Linked DNA regions of Homo sapiens: region 2 is linked to region 1. Evidence: fine-mapped expression QTL. Tissue or cell type: whole blood. Region 1 holds a variant in brackets; the other region holds the start of a gene. All regions are shown on one strand. Distances are from middle to middle.

Evidence for each region. PIP is the estimated chance that this variant, and not a neighbour inherited with it, causes the effect.
Region 2: ZDHHC20 starts here. The variant in region 1 is fine-mapped to the expression of ZDHHC20 in whole blood (TOPMed, PIP above 0.99).

Annotation. Positions count from the first base shown.
Region 1 is chr13:21,356,126-21,364,389 of GRCh38, forward strand. It overlaps the pseudogene MIPEPP3 and the pseudogene GAPDHP52. Among named protein-coding and RNA genes, the nearest start is that of LINC00539, 15 kb to the left of the region's middle. The variant T/G (reference allele first, on the strand shown) is at 4,946.
Region 2 is chr13:21,455,191-21,463,190 of GRCh38, forward strand. It overlaps ZDHHC20 (zDHHC palmitoyltransferase 20), which reads right to left and starts at 4,113. Exons shown (of 13, transcript NM_001330059.2): 1 at 3,864-4,113. The coding sequence starts at 3,981. LOC124903131 (a long non-coding RNA gene) reads left to right here and starts at 4,357. Exons shown (of 2, transcript XR_007063713.1): 1 at 4,357-4,989; 2 at 5,193-5,456. RefSeq lists a silencer at 4,026-4,405, an enhancer at 4,269-4,438 and a cis regulatory region at 4,354.

The DNA of each region.
Region 1 (8,264 bases):
CAGCCTGGGCAACAGGGCGAGACTCAGTCTCAAAAAATATATAAATAAATAAATAAATAAATAAATATGTAAATGCTTTAACATAAACACATAGATGACTGGCCTAGACCCCACCCCCACCCCCCACCAAGGACCCCTCTACCTCAGACATCTCCTGGTCTTCACCCTGCCCCAGGCAGACAGTGACAGATGTCCACTCTGTTAGCCACAAGGAACTGGCCAGGTCAAGCTGGTGCAGAGGGAAGGGCAAGTCCATGTTCCTCACACCAAGAACTGTTGCCCCTGGGAGCTGGGAGAAGTTGGAATTGATTGGAATGCCCATGGTGGCCTGGCTGGGCCCAGGGATGCTGAAATTCATGAAAAGGGGACCTTCTGGGGCCTGTTGTCAGTCAAAGGGGGTGAAAAGGGGCAGATGTGAATTTCATATAGAAACTTTCTAGAAAAATGACATTGATTTTTCTAGAAATGAAAATAGAAATGTTTCATAGGCCAGGCACAGTGGCTCACACCTGAAATCTCAGCGCTCTGGGAGCCCGAGGCAGGAGGGTCACTTGAGCCCAAGAGTTTGAGACCAGCCTAGGCAACATAGGGAGACCCCGTTTCTACAAAAAAGTTTTAAAAATTAGCAGGGCGTCTGTAATCCCAGCACTTTGGGAGGCTGAGGCAGGAGGATCACGAGGTCAGGAGCTTGAGACCAGCCTGGCCAGCATGGTGAAACCCCATATCTACTAAAAATACAAAAAAAAAAAAAAAATTAACTGGTCAGGGTGGCGCAAGCCTGTAATCCTAGCTACTCAGGAGGCTGAGCCAGGAGAATTGCTTGAACCTGGGAGGTGGAGGTTGCAGTGAGTTGAGATTGCACCACTGCACTCCAGCCTGGGCAACAGAGCAAGACTCAGTCTCAAAAAAAAAAAGCTGTGCGTGATGGCATGTGCCTGTAGTTCCAGCTACTTGAGAGGCTGAGTCAGGAGAATCACTTGATCACTTGGGCCCTTGGGTTCAGGGCTGCAGTGAGCCATGATCACACCACTGTACTCTAGCCTGGTCAACAGAGTGAGTCTCTCTCTCTCTCTCTCTCTCTACATATATATACACACACACACACATATACACACATATATATAAATTTTTTAAAAAATGTTTTATAAAACATAAATACTTGGTCATTTAACCATTTTCTTATTGCTCTCAATGTCTAAATATCTCTTGGTAGAGAAGCTGACTAGAAATCTGCAGAAACTCGGGAATCTAGTGTCAGCCTCTGAATTGGTGATCCTCAACACCGGCTGCACTTCAGGACCTCCCAATGGGTTGGTTAACACTTTGTTCAAGCCCCACCCATCTCCGAGTCTGGTTTAAAGTGGCCTGGGTGGGGGTGGGTACAGGGATTTGTTAAATGCTCACCAGGTGGTTATAATGGGCAGCCCCGCTTGAGAGCCATCAAGGCAAAGTAAAAGTTGCGTTAACTTCCAGCAGCCACGCCCCTTATTTATGAAAGGAGTTGAAAACCTTTTCCACACAAAAACCTGCACACGGATGTTTAGAGCCACTTTATCCGTATTTGCTAAAAGTTGGAAACAACCAAGATATCCTTCAGTAGGTGAGGGGATAAACTGGGGTACATGCAGACAATGGCGTATTACTTAGCGCCAAAGAGAATTGAGCTGCGAAGCCATGAAAAGGCATGGGGGAAACTTAAATGCATATTACTGAGTGAAAGAAGCCAATCTGAGAAGGCTGCATACTGTATGATTCCAACTGTATGACATTCTGGAAAAGGTGAAACTATGAAGAGTATAACAAGATCAGTGGTTGCCAAGGGGGGAGCGGGAGGAAGGGATGAACTGGTAGGGTACAGAGGATTTGTAGGGCAGTGAGACTACTCTGATATTATAATGATGGATGCATGTCATAATGCATTTGTCAAAACCCATAAAATGTCCAACACAGAGAGTGAACCCTAAGGTAAACCATGGACTCTGGGTGATAGAGATGTGTCAATGTTGGTTCATTAATTGAAACAAACATGCCAGTCTGGTGGGGGATGTTGATAATGAGGGGAGCTGTGCATGTGTAGGGGGGAAGGTACCTGGGATATCTCTGTACTCTGCTCAATTTTTCTGTGAATCTAGAACTGCTCAGAAAATGAAGTCTGTTTTTAAAAGAAAAAAGCTGTGGCTCTCTTCTCTTCCTCGTTCGACAAACAGCTCCATCTGCTCATGCAGTGTCAGCCTCATCCAGGATACAATGGTGAGAGTCTGAGTCAATGGATTTGGCCATATTGGATACCTGGTCACCAGGGCAGCTTTCAACTCGGCAAAATGGACACTGTCATCATCAATGATCTCTTCACTGGCCTCAACTCCATGGTCTACATGTTCCAGTATATTTCATGACAAGTCCAATGGCACAGTCAAGGAAAGAGAACAGGAAGCTTGTAATCAAAGGGAAGCCCATCTCCATCCTCCAAGAGCAAGATCTCGCCAACATCAAATGAGGCAACACTGGTGCTGAATATGGTGCAGAGCCCACTGGCGTCTTCAGCACTACGGAGAAGACTGGGGCTCACTTGAAGTAGCCAAAACTGTCGTCATCTTTGCCCCTTGTGCTCTTGTGCAGATCCATGTTTGTGGTGGGTGTGAACCATGAGAAGTATGAATTATCTTCTCGAGATTGTCAGCAGTGCCTCCTGCACTATCAACGTTTGGCACCCTTGGCCAAGGTCATCTATGACTACAGTCCATGCCACTACTGCCACCCAGAAGACTGTTGGAGAAACTTTGGCGTGACTGCTGCAGAACATCATCCCTGTATCTACTAGTGTGGCCGAGGCTATGGGCAAGGTCATCCCTGAGCCAGATAAGAGGCTCACAGGTATGGCCTTCTGTGTTCCCACCCATAATATGTTGGTTGTGGCTCTCATCTGCCATCTGCAGAAAGCTGCCAAATATGATGGCATGAGAAGATGCTGAAGCAGGTATCGGAGGGCCCCCTCAAGGGCATTCTGATCTACACTGAGGACCAAGTTGTCTCCTCTGACTTTAAGAGTGGCACCTGCACTCTTCTACCTTCAATGCCACGACTGGCATTACCTTCAATGGCCACTTTGTCAGGCTCCTTTCCTGGGATGAATTTGGCAGCAGCAACAGGGTGGTGGACCTTATGGTCCACACGGCCTCCAAGGAGTAAGACCCCCAGACCACCAGCTCCATCAAGAGCATGAGAGGAAGAGTGAACCCCCAGCTGCTGGGGAGTCATTGCCCCACTCAGGCTCCCCAAAGTCAGTTTCCATTCCAGACTCCTGGAGGAAGGACAGGGGCTTAGGCAGCTCCAGCTTGTCATGCACCATCAATGAAGTATGCCATCCCCAGCCAAAAGAAAAAGGTCACATAACCTAACATGGGCAACAGTCCTCTCACATGATTCATGGTATTGAGTGTTTGGTTAGTAGAACAGAATAGTGGTCCAGTTTCCAAAATTTCTAATCATGTGTATACTGATAAAAGTGAAATCATTACAGTTGGTCGTTGGTTGATGTGATGCTCTGGTGTCTTTTGATGCAAGTGCTGCCATAAACTTTTCCCTCTGGCCAATCCCCAAGACGAGGCTTCTGCAGAGGGACTTTTGATAAGAATAAGACGCCAAAGACATTGAGAATCTCCCAGTTCAAAGGAGCCCTCCCTAGCTCAAGGTTGCCTAGAATTCTAGCCCTCTCCTCCGAGGCTTTATGGGGCTGGTGTTCCTGGGAGTGTCCGTGTCACAGTGTGAGTAGCTATGCACCTAGTGGGACTGTGTTGCACCTGTTCCTGAGAGCAGGTGTGATTAGGAAACAGCAGAACGAAGGGCAACATGCAGGCACGTGGGGGTGAGAAGGCACTGGCACATCCCTCCCACCTGGGGGTGGGGCTTACTGTAGGAGAGGCATGGTCTCCAGAGGACCCCTCCCTTCACCACTGTGCAGGATGCTCAGTCAGTCCTGAATATTACAGCCAAACCCTAGCCAGGGCCCCTGCCACCTGAGGTAGTGGCTGAGTGTGTGGGGATGGAGTTCCCATAGCCTGCCGGCAAACTCTTCGGGATCACACACATCCTAAGAGCAAAGGAAAAGAATCCATGCTAGCCTATGTCCCTCTCTTCTCAAAACTGCTTCGGGAGCTTTAGTTCTTGGAGAAACCACACTTTTCGGATCCAATTTCAAGACTTTCCACATGTCCCTTGTAAATGAGGATGTGCACTTCTCGAGCCTGAAGAGTTTGTAAAAAGGCCACAATTGGTCATTCCAGGGACAGTGTCAGAAAAGCGGGTGGTCTTCCTGGGAAGCCAAGGGGTGACACACTCCTGCAGGGGTTCATTCTATGCATGACACATTTAAGTCAAAGCTCTCCCCACACAGGGTTCAAAGGAACAACCTCTGGGATATTTTGCAGACCAGCAAAGGGTTCCCATGATGTGGGCAACTCTCACTCACATCCTTGGAGGCATCAGCAGGGCTGGCTGGGATGCAGGCTGCCGCTTGTGCTGGAAGTGATATTCACTCTCAGAAGGGCAACCTGGATCACTTCTCCCTTCGGAGTGTGGTGCAAAGAGCTGGATGTCCAGTCATGAGAACTTCTGGGTACAACCCTATGGTCGTATCTTCATCTCAGAGCAAACGCAAATGCCCTGTGTTGCCTGCCACCCTGGAGGGTATGAGGATCAGAGGAGGTGCTTTGGAAACACCTTGAAACTACATAGAGCTTTTTGGATATAAGCTCGATGCTGCTTATCTCCCAGTGGCCCTTTGGGAGGAAATGGAATCACTGTTGAACCCAATGCAACTCTCAGAGAAGTCAAGACACAGGGTAGATTGGTTGTAGAGGCCCCTCGTGCCCGTCCCACACATCACAGATGTAATCCTTCTTTTGAGTTGCATGAGGCAGGTCTCTGTGGCTTCCAAAACAACGAA[T/G]CCTCCAAGGTCAAATATATTTTTTAATTTCTCATCAGAGTTCTTTGAGAAAGGGAACTTTGTTTTCAGTGTCTCTTTTTGCAGAGGATAATTAATACTACTGATAAAATTGCTGGTTCTATGGGTAGACCTGTGATGCTGGGATCACACGACCCTGCAGGCCTTTGAGTCGCTGGAAGCTGTTGCCTTCCAGAGGGAGCCCTGCACCCCAGGGCTGTGCAGGAGGAAAGAGGGAGCCCATGGAAGTGGGGTCACATTGTGAAGGGCCAGCCAACCCCACGGACGGTCCTGGCTCCCCTGGAGACACATGACAACGTTCCTTATAAGTGGGCTTCTCCAGCTCAGGCAGTTGACAGTTTCAAGAAATCCGTTAGAAGAAACAGGCAGAGTTGTGATGCTGGCAAAGTTCTAGGGCTTTTTTTTTTCTTTCCCCGTTTTAACTGTTAAAATTTATCTCCGACATTGCACAAACGAATGAAATCAACAGCCTCTTATCACATCCCAAATCTGTCAACCAATGTCTACCAGCCACTTGGAGCCAAAAGCCTCTTAGCACGTGTGTGACTTGAGCTGAGAAGGGCAGGACAGGAGCGCAGGCAGCTTTGTTCTGGCACCGTCGTTCCCAAACATTTGCTCATTTAGAGCCCAGGAGGCAGCAGTGCCTCCACAGCCTCTGATCTCGGTTCTGCGGGCTACCAGACAGGGTTCAAGCACCTCCCTGACAAGCCTTCATCTCTTTCTTCAGTCACCAACCACCACCCATGGCCGTAGGGGCCAGTGGCCAAATTCTATGCTGTCCTCCTAGCCTTTCATGCATGCCCAGGTCTCCATGGGGTGGGAAGAGTTAGAGGTACTGCTGTGAATCCACAGTTGCCTAAAGTGGCTTGGGCTGAACCAGATAGAGAAAGAAGCCCAGCCATCCCTGGGGCACAGTCACCCTGGCACCCACCTTGGGCTGAGCACTTTCATGACTGGAAGCTTTGGAGAACAAGTCCTTGGGCAGTACCTCTGGCTGGGCTGGCTCCAAGAGTTTCTGATCCTGGACAGATCCCAGGGTGCACCTCTCCAAGACATGTCTGTTCCCATGACATCTGGAGGAAAGAGACATAAGACTTAACGTAAGTTTCCTTAGAGTTCATTTGAGTTAATCTATCTATGTATTCCTGGGGGCAGCACATGAAAACTACCAATATTAATAAGTACCACACATGGGGTATCTCCCATATGCCGGGCACTTTTTATACAGGCATAGCTGATTTTAATTGCACTTGGCTTTATTGTGCTTTGCAGAGATTGCATTTTTTACAAACTGAAGGTTTATGGCAACATGGCATCGAGCAAGTCTACAGGTGCTCACTTCCTGTCTCTGTCACATTTTGGTAGTTTTTTGCAATATTTCAACCTTTTTCATTGTTATTATATATGCTATACTCATCTGTAATCAGTGATCTTTGGTGTTACTACTGTAATTGTTTTTGGGCATGATAAGCCACACCCACATAAGACAATGAATTAATCAATTAATGTTGTGTGTGTTCTGACTGCTCGACTGAGGCTGTTCTCTCTCTCTCTCTCTCTCTTTCTTTAAGCTTCCTTATTCCCTAAGACACAACAATATTGAAATTAGGCCAATTAATAACCCTACCATGGCCTCTAAATATTCAAGTGAAAGAAAAGTGGTATGTCTCTCAACTTTAATCAAAAGCTAGAAATGATTAAGCTTAGTGAGGAAGGCATGTTGAAAGCCAAGACAGCCTGAAACCTAGCCCTCTTGTGCCAAACAGCCAGGCTGTGAAAGCAAAGAAAAATTTCTTGAAAAAAATTAAAAGTGCTACTGCAGTGAACACACGTATGATAAGAAAGCGAAACAGCCTTATTGCTGATATGGAGAAAGTGTGCGTGGTGTGGATAGAAGAGCAAACCAACCGCAATGTTCCCTTAAGCCAAAGCCTAATCCAGAGCAAGACCCTATCTCTTTGGTTCTATTAAGGCTGAGAGAGGTGAGGAAGCTGCAGAAGTGAAGTTGGAACCTAGTAGAGGTTGGTTCATAAGGTTTAAGGAAAGAAGCCATCTCCGTAACATCAAGTGCAAGATGAGGTGGCAAGTGCTCCAGATCTTGCTAAGATCATCGATGAAGGTCACTACACTAAACAACAGATTTTTCATGTAGATGAAAGAGCCTTCTACTGGAAGAAAATGCCACCTAAGACTTTCATAGCTAGAAAGGAGAAGTCAATGCCTGGCTTCAGAGCTTCAAAGGACAAGCTGACTCTCTTGTCAGGGGCTAATGCAGCTGGTGACTTGAAGTTGAAGCCAGTCCTCATGTACCATTCAAAAATCCTAAAGCACTTAAACTTATGCTAAATCTACTCTGTCTGTGCTTTATAAATGGAACAACAAACCTTGGGTGTCAGTACATCTGCTTACATCATGACTTACTGAATATTTTCAACCCACTGTTGAGACCTTCTGCTCAGAAAAAAAAAGATTTTTTGAAAATGTGACTGCTCATTGAGTACCAGGTCACCCAAGAGCTCTGATAGAGATGTACAAGAAGATGAATGTTTCCATGTCTGTTAGCACAACATCCATTCTGCAGCCCAGGAATCAAGGAGTCATTTTGACTTTCAATTCTTATTATTTAAAAAATACATTTTGTAAGGCTATAGCTTCCACAGATAGTGAATCCTCTGATGGATCTGGACAAAAGAAATTAAAACCTTCTGAAAATAATTCACTATTCCAGGTGCCATTAAGAACATTCATGATTCATGGGAGGAGGTCAAATGCCAACATTAACAGGAGTTCGGAAGAAGTCGATTCCAACCCTGGATGCCTTCGAAAAGCTCAATTGAGACTTTGGTCAATTTACCATAGGAAGTCACTGCAGATGTGGTGGAAATAGCAAGAGAACTATAATTAAAAGTGGAGCCCAAAGATGTGACTGAATTGCTGCAATCTCATGATGAAGTTTAAATAGGTGAGAAGTTGCTTTATATGGATGGGCAAAGAAAGTGGTTTCTTGAGACGGAATCTACTCCTGGTGAAGATGCCATGAACATGTTGAAATGACAACAAAGGATTTAGAATGTTACGTCGACTCAGTTGATAAAGCAGTGGCAGGGCTTGAGAGGATGGACTCTAATTTGGAAAGAAATTCTACTGTGGGTGAAATGCTATCAAACAGCATCACGTGCTACAGAGACATCTTTCGCGAAAGGAAGAGTCAATTGCCAAGGCAAACTTCATTGTTGTCTTATTTTAAGAAATTGCCACAGCCGCCCCCACCTTTGGCAACCACTACCCTGATCAGTTAGCA
Region 2 (8,000 bases), 99 kb after region 1:
TTACAGGTGTGAGCCACCACGCCTGGCCAACATAGCTCTTTTGAGCAATAGTTTCATCAGAAGTAAAGGGACTGAATGAGATTATCTTTAAAATCTCTTTAAGTTCTAAGATTCTCTACATGCCAAAGAAGAGGTACACATCCACTAACAAGATGACCTGAACAACAAGATATTCTGATAAAACCTTGGGAACCAGAATTAGCACTTGCCTCAAAAATAACCACCTTGACCAAAGAGAAGAAGTTATTCAATCCATTCGTACTTTAAATATCAACCCTGGGGAAAAAAAATCATACGAGAATTTCAGTCTAATTTAAAATCAAGGACCAATATTACTAATTACTTAATCTTCGCTTCTCAGCTTATCACTCCTGTGAGATGGCCGTTTTACATGCATTACCCTCTTCCTCAATTTTGTCCTCAGTATTACTCCCAGTGAAGTGGTGTGTGTGTGTGTGTGTGTGTGTGTGTGTGTGTGTGTGTCTAATTACACAATTAGCAAGTTACAGAGGGTAAGATGGAATGAGGGCCTCTTGGTAATCAACAATTTGTTCAACTTACAGCCAACTGTGGGCCAGGTATTTTTATTGTCTGAGATATTTAGGAATCTTCTGCAGCTGCCTTTTAGGAGAAAAGTACTTTATATAAATATATCATATACAGGACTGAAATCTGCCCTGAGTGTCCAGATCTGGACACCAAATAGATTAGTCATTAATTGTATAGTGGTTAACAGCATGGGCTTTGGAGCCAAACCCCTTGAATTCCAATTCTTACCATGCTACTTACTGGCTCTATAACCGTGGACAAATTACTTAACCTTATGGGGATCATTATTAAGATTAAATGAATTAATACATACATGTAAAGATATAATTATGATCTTCTCCTCCTAGTTTGATAAAGAATACCAGAATCTAAGAATATCCTATAGGCCGGGCACAATGCCTCATGCCTGTAATCCCAGCACTTTGGGAGGCCAAGGTGGGTGGATTGCCTGAGGTCAGGAGTTTGAGACCAGCCTGACCAACAAGGTGAAACCCCCGTCTCTACTAAAAATACAAAAAAAATTAGCTGGGCATGGTGGCGGGCACCTGTAATCCCAGCTACTTGGGAGGCTGAGGCAGGAGAGTCACTTGAACCCAGGAGGCAGAGGTTGCAGTGAGCCAAGATCGCATCATTGCACTCCAGCCTGGGCAACAAGAGTGAAACTCTGGCTCAAAAAATACATATATAAATAAAAAGAATATCCTATAAAAGTATTAAAACAGCACTTTTAAGTAAAACTCACACTTCCCTCCATTTAAGTCCTCCTATAAAGTAATATATCTATACATATTTCAGTGGGAGGGTCAGTACTTATGAAAACAAATACATACAAGTAGTTTAAAGGATAGTTTTAATATGAGTAAATGCACTTTTATGCTCAACTATTTTATACTCCAGTGACACTGCAGACCTCCCAAATTCTCTCTAGTTAAAATGAGATAACTCAGAAGTTAATACAGCCTCTACATAAGACCTTTCACCACCAAATATTTTAAGATTCTGCCAAGCATCAGGCCATAGTTATAGAATGTTTTAACTTAATGAAATTGTAGGGTATAATCTCTACAGAATGGGCCTCAAGCCTAACTAAGTGATCTCCAAAAATATGCCAACCCCTTTATCCCCCCACACCATTATGGACCAAACAATTACAGTTCCATTGACCCTCATAGCTTACTGAAGTTATATGAAAGAACGGAAAGATGTGGGTCACATTCCAATAATCAATTGTGTGACCTAACCAAAAGGACCTATTCGCTCAGTCTCACGTCCTCCACCTGTAGAGATACCTATGCTGTGACATACTGAAAGAATTAAAGGAGAGGGTGAATGAAATGTCCCCTCTATGCCCACTAGCACATGGCACTTCTCAATTCATGTTCATTTCTCCTTCTTTATTTGAAGTGGTGAAAGAAATCAGAAGCAATTTAAGACTTTTCACAGCACTGTTTGATCTCATTTCTTAATATTTTTGACAAAAACCATCTACAGGTTAAGCTGTGGAATCTCAACATAAATGCACATTTTTAGTGTTCCTTCAGCTTTACTTCAAAACCACTACGGGAATTAAAATACGGTAGGAATAATCTTCTGACAGAATAGGAATGACATAACTTTTAGAATAAATGCCCACTTCAGAGTAAATAAGAAGATAAAGGAGGTATCATCATAAGTTGATGAGAATCCTATGATCACTACCACTTTCTGGAAGTAGCTCCCAGAAATATTAAAATCTAGTAATTTTAATTGACTCAAACATCATTTTTAGTAAACATTCTGGTATCCAAAAGCATGAGACTAAACAATGATATTGAAAAGATTAATATTATTTGGAAATGTATTCCACAACTAATTTATTCTGGGCCTACCTGCAGGGATAGTCGTCCCAAAATTAAACGTTCTATAGGTACAAAGTAATTTTAAAACTGGATGTTTTAATTTCAAAACTTATAAATTTTCTGAGCCAAAGCATTCTCTTCCATGTATAGAACTAGGGTTTTAACCAAATACTTGGTTGAAAGCTGTACAAATCCAAACATAATTGAAGTCTTGATTCTGCCACTTTCAAGAGTGGGTGGTACAGATTCTTCTCATTCATAACATTAGTTTCTAGCTGATGTGGTTCGTTATTCAAAGAACACTTAACAGTCCTTCATAAAATGGTAGATTCAGTCTAAGGACTAAGAGTAGAACATTCTGGAATAACAATAACGTTTACAAACACCACTTACCATTTGGTCCTAGGTTTTCATAAAAAATTGATATAGGCAGCAGATGTATACAGAACACCCTAGTTGAGGCCAGTTTAAGTGTAAAATACCCACATACTCAAAGCCTAAGAACAATTTACTTAAGACAAAACAATGTTGGAGAAATTGCCCAATATCACAAATGTAGCAGTCACCCCTAAACAGTGTTTTTGATTAATGACAACCAATTTCCTTCAATCTTAAAGGCAACCAATTCAAGCCAGTAGGTTAAATCCTTGAAGTATACTGCAATGCTACTCCTTTTTTCCAGGGAATCAGATGAGAATTTTGTGCTAAGAACTTATCAGGAAAATGGAAGTAACGAAAATTAACACGCCAAAATATGAGTATAAGAAATATAAGCCTCCTTAATAATCAGCCAAGAAAAAAATAATCAGGTTATGTCTCCTCCCACCCATTCTTTCTGTCTTAACCTTCTGCAAAAGCCGGCTGGATTCAGAGTAGAAATAAACGAATTTTACAATGAGTCGAGTACCACCAAAAATCAAAAGTGGGAGCTTACTCGTCCTCCAGGTCTGACCCGCCTCCAGCCCGAGGCCACCAAAAGACACACCTCCCTTCCCCCAACCCGCCACAGCCGGCTCTACAGGTAACAGGCGTTTCTTCTCGCGCAGTTTGAACAAAAACAATCCAGAAGGAACAGATTTGGTTTTTTAAAAAAAATGAACAAAAGCCAAAAAAGCCACAAACACAACCTAAACCTTCTAAGAAGCTCGACTACTCCCGTTCTGCACGTTCCTTCCCAGAAGGATGCAGACCCCCGGTGTCGGCGGGAACCAGGAAGCTCTTGGGGCCTCCCTGGGCCAGACCTGCACCCGGGAAGCCGCCGCAAGGCTTCAGGAGCCCCAGGTCGCCCCAAGGCCGCGCCGCAGGATTGAACAAAGCGGCGGGTGCAGCAACCTCGGCGCTTCCGAGCGCGTTCGGGGCCGGACGCCCGGCGTCCGGCGCTGGCTCCAGAAAGGCGGCGGGTGTGGGGCGCAGAGGCCTATCTCGCGCCCTAGCCGCGGCCCGCGCCCCGCCGCAGTCCCCGGGGACGGTACTCACACACGCAGAGCTCCACCACGTACGCGTAGTAGGACCAGACGACCACGAAGGTGATGAAGAGCACCGGCACCCAGCCCACGACGCGCTGGCAGCAGCGCCACAGCGTCCAGGGCGCCATGTTCCGCTGGCGGCTGCCGAGCCCCGCGTCCCACCGTTCTGGGGAGCGCGGGAGCCCCGGCGACGGTGACTCGGACGCTCCAGGCGGCTGCTGGTCCAGCTCCCCCGCCTCCGAGGCAGGACTTGTGGGAGCAAAAGTCCGAGGCGCCGCCGGGACTCCTCCCGTCCCGGCGCCCAGCCAGGCCCCGCCCCCACCCCACATCCCGTCGCCCCCCTCCCCCCGCGTCCGTCCCCGCCAGCCCGCCCGCCGCGGGCCGCGGGCCGCCCCCGGTCTCCGCGTCGTTGGGGCGGGGTTTCCGCGGCCGGGGAGGCGGTGAGGGGGCGGGGCCGCAGCTCGGGACCGCCCATGGGGCGTGGCGGGGCTGGATGCGGACAGGCTGGGCGGACGCGGGAGGCCGGGGAAGGAGAGGCGAAAAACACGCCCTTGATGGATGAGAGGGACAGGGGATAGCTTTTGTGGATCGAGACTCAATAGGGGAGGGAGACTATGGAAATGATTCCTTAGCTGATTTGTGGATCTTGGCCCTCTCTGTGTACAGAACTCGCTCCACTGGGGTTCCTGGGACATTGAGTAGTTGGGGCACTGTTTCAAACATGACAAGGCCATTCCCCACTCAGTGTGCGAAGAATGCACATTGTTAGAAGGCTCCTCCTGTGATTTTTATGTTCGTCCATCTTGGCGGAACCCCTCCCTTTCTTGAAGATGGAACGGTAGATACCTGTAATTTCGGGTAGAAGCCATGTAGGGTCCATCAGTTTGATTCGTAACCCAAATTTAAGATTGAGTAGCGAGAAGGAAAGGGCATGTAAATGACCCTCTCCTTGCCCCGCAAACGACTAAGGAAATTTAAAGAATTTATTTACAACTAGAGGTTGCTAAGCAATGACGATAATCATATAGAACCCAGAAGCATCACTGTGAAGACTTCACAATGCAAGGTCAGACGCATTAGAAGGGATTCCAGACCGCAATCTTCATACCAGTTCCTGCTACTAGCATTCAGTTTTGGTTAGAATGAATTTTTGTGTTTGTTTTTTGAAACAGGGTCTTCTCGCTCTGTCGCCCAAGCTGGAGTGCAGTGGCACGACCTGGGCTCATTTAAGCCTCGACCTCCCTGCTAAAGCACTCCTCCTGCTTCAGCCTGCAGAGTAGCAGGGACTACAGGCCCGCCACCATGCCCAGCTGATGTTTGTATTTTCTGTAAAAACTAGGTTTCGCCCTGTTGCCATGCTGGCCCTGAACTCCAAGGCTCAAGGAATCCCAACCCCTCTCCGCCTCCACCTCCCAAAGAAGTGCTGAGATTACAGGTGTGAGCCACCACGACCGGCCTACACTGAGCTTTAAATTAGCTACTGCTCACTAAAGTCTCCATGAAGAAGACGTCACCCTTTGCTGTGTCAGAGAAATGTAGTAAAAGCGAGTAAGTATTTAATCACTGCACACTGCTGCTTGAGTAATAAAGCATGTATAAAAGATTCTGTTCTCCCTGATTTTGTGCCTTAAAAGTCATATTAGTTAGTGGCCTAGTTGACAGTAGGTTTAGGTTCAAGTTCAACTAGTTTTCCAGAGAGGCTGCTTAGGAGGGTTAGACCTCAACATAGAATTCGGATGGACATGGAAGAACATAAAGCCGTTTCTCCTCTATGTCATCTCTACGTACCAAAACCATGCTGCTAGAGCTCAGCACAAAGCCATGTCCTTTACAAGCTCCAGGGCTGCTAGAAATGATCTTTCACGACATTTTGTTTATAACCTAACTATAAAACTGTCACATTCGTTTCCTAGGGTGACTATAACAAAGTACCACAAAACTGGGGAATAATAGAAATTGGTTGTCTCACAGTTTAGGAGGGTAGGTGTCCCAAATCAAAGTGTTGGCAAGGATATTGGATATGGTTTGGATGTTTGTCCCCTCCAAATCCCATGTTGAAATGTGATCCCAGTGTTGGAGGTGGGACCTGGTGGGAGGTATTGGATCATTAGGGTGGATCCCTCATGAATGGTTTAGTGCCATCCCCTTGGATGAGGGGTTCTTTCTCTAGTAGTTCACATGAGATCTGGTTATTTAAAAGAGCCTGATCCTTCCCCCACTCTCTCTCTTGCCCCCTCTCTTGCCATGTGACATGCTGGCTCCCCTTTGCCTTCTGCCGAGAAGGCAGAAGTCTATCTCTGTGGTCCTGTGTCTTCAGAGATAAGGATGTTCCTTTGTCTGGGTAGAGGGAGGGCACCTCTTGAATAACAGTCTTAGGTCTGCCTTCAGGGGAAGGCCTGAGACGCTTTTGCTAGTGCTATGGCCTGCTTCAGGGGAGAAGAGCGAGAGGAAGGTGAGAGGGACCTTCCTGTTGCTGTTGTCTCCAATGTTGTCTCCAACTGATGATTGGAAGCTTCTTGAGGCCTCACCAGAAGCATATGCTGACCCCATACTTTCTGTACAGCCTGGAGAGCTGTGGGCCAATTAATCCACTTTTCTTTATAAATTACCCAGTCTCAGGTATTCCTTTATATCAGTGCAAGAATGACCTAACACAGCCATGTGCCCTCTGAAACTTGTAGGGGAGAATTCTTCTTTGCTTCTTCCTAGCCTTTGGTGGTGACCATTAGTCCATGGCATCCCTTGACCTGCAGTGGCAGTGGCATCACCCCAATATCTACCGCTATCCTCAGGTGGCATTCTCCTTTCCTGTCTCTCCCCTTATATTGGGTTAAGGGCCTACCCTACTCTAGTATGGCCTCATCTTAACTAATTACATCTACAACAGGCCCACTTCCAAATAAGGCCACATTCTTTTTTTTTTTTTTTTCAGTAGAGTCTTGCTCTGTCACCCAGGTTGGAGTGCGGTCACGTGATCTTGGCTCACTGCAACCTCCACCTCCCAGCTTCAAGTGATTCTCATGCCTCAGCCTCCCGAGTAGCTGGGATTACAGGCGTGCACCACCACGTGAGGCCTGCATTTTGTATTTTTGCTAGAGATGGGGTTTCCCCATGTTGGCCAGGCTGGTCTCAAACTTTTGGAGTCAAGTGATTTGCCTGCCTCGGCCTTCCAAAGTGCTGGGATTACAGGCCTAAGCCACCTCGCTCAGCCAATAGTTTTGATACTCATTGAAATATGTGATCTTGCCTACTACCTTGTAAGGTTCTAGAAGGTAGAAAGTATTTCTTGCACATCCACAGTGACTTGCAGTAGGAAATATTTAGTAAGAAATTGTTGAACAAATATTTAAAGTTTTCTATTGTTATCCAGTTACTCCTCCTAACTTCTGGCGTTGCCAACCAGATTACATTAGCTTGTGATTTCTTTTTTTTCTTTTTCTTTTTTTTTTTTTTGAGACAGAGTCTTGCTGTGTTGCCAGGCTGGAGTGCAGTGGTGCAATCTCAGCTCCCTGCAACCTCCGACTCCCTGGTTCAAGCGATTCTCCTGCCTCAGCCTCCCCAGTAGCTGGGATTACAGGCACACACAACCACGCCCAGCTAATTTTTTGTATTTTTTGTGAGCCACCGTGCCCGACCAGTTTCTGATTTCTAAATGACTGCCACATATTCTAAGGTGATTTATGTGGGATCTAGAGAATATTTCTGATCTATGTCCTTGTACAATGAGGACAGACACATTTTTGAGGAGGCAATATTTTTATTATTTTGGACTCTTTCTGTCGTAAATGGTTACAGACATGAATTAATGTTCTTTGCTTGTGAGCAATAGAAGCCAGTATCTTAAACCCCTTCCTTCCATTTCCATGTTGGGCTTGTGATTTCACTCCATCTTTGCTACTGGTTTTGACAACAGGGAATCATTTAAAGACTTTAGGCAGTGTAGTGACGTGAGCAGAATTACATTTTATAACAATCACTCTGGCTGTGGTAAGAAGAACAGATTGGAGGGAGGAAAGTCTAGAGGCAAGGAAACCAGTTGGGAGGCCGTTGCAGTCGTAGAGCAAGAGATGATGCTAGCCTGACCTTGATTTGTGGCAGTGGAGAAGGTAATAAGAAAGCTACTTAGGGCTGGGTGCGATGGCTCACG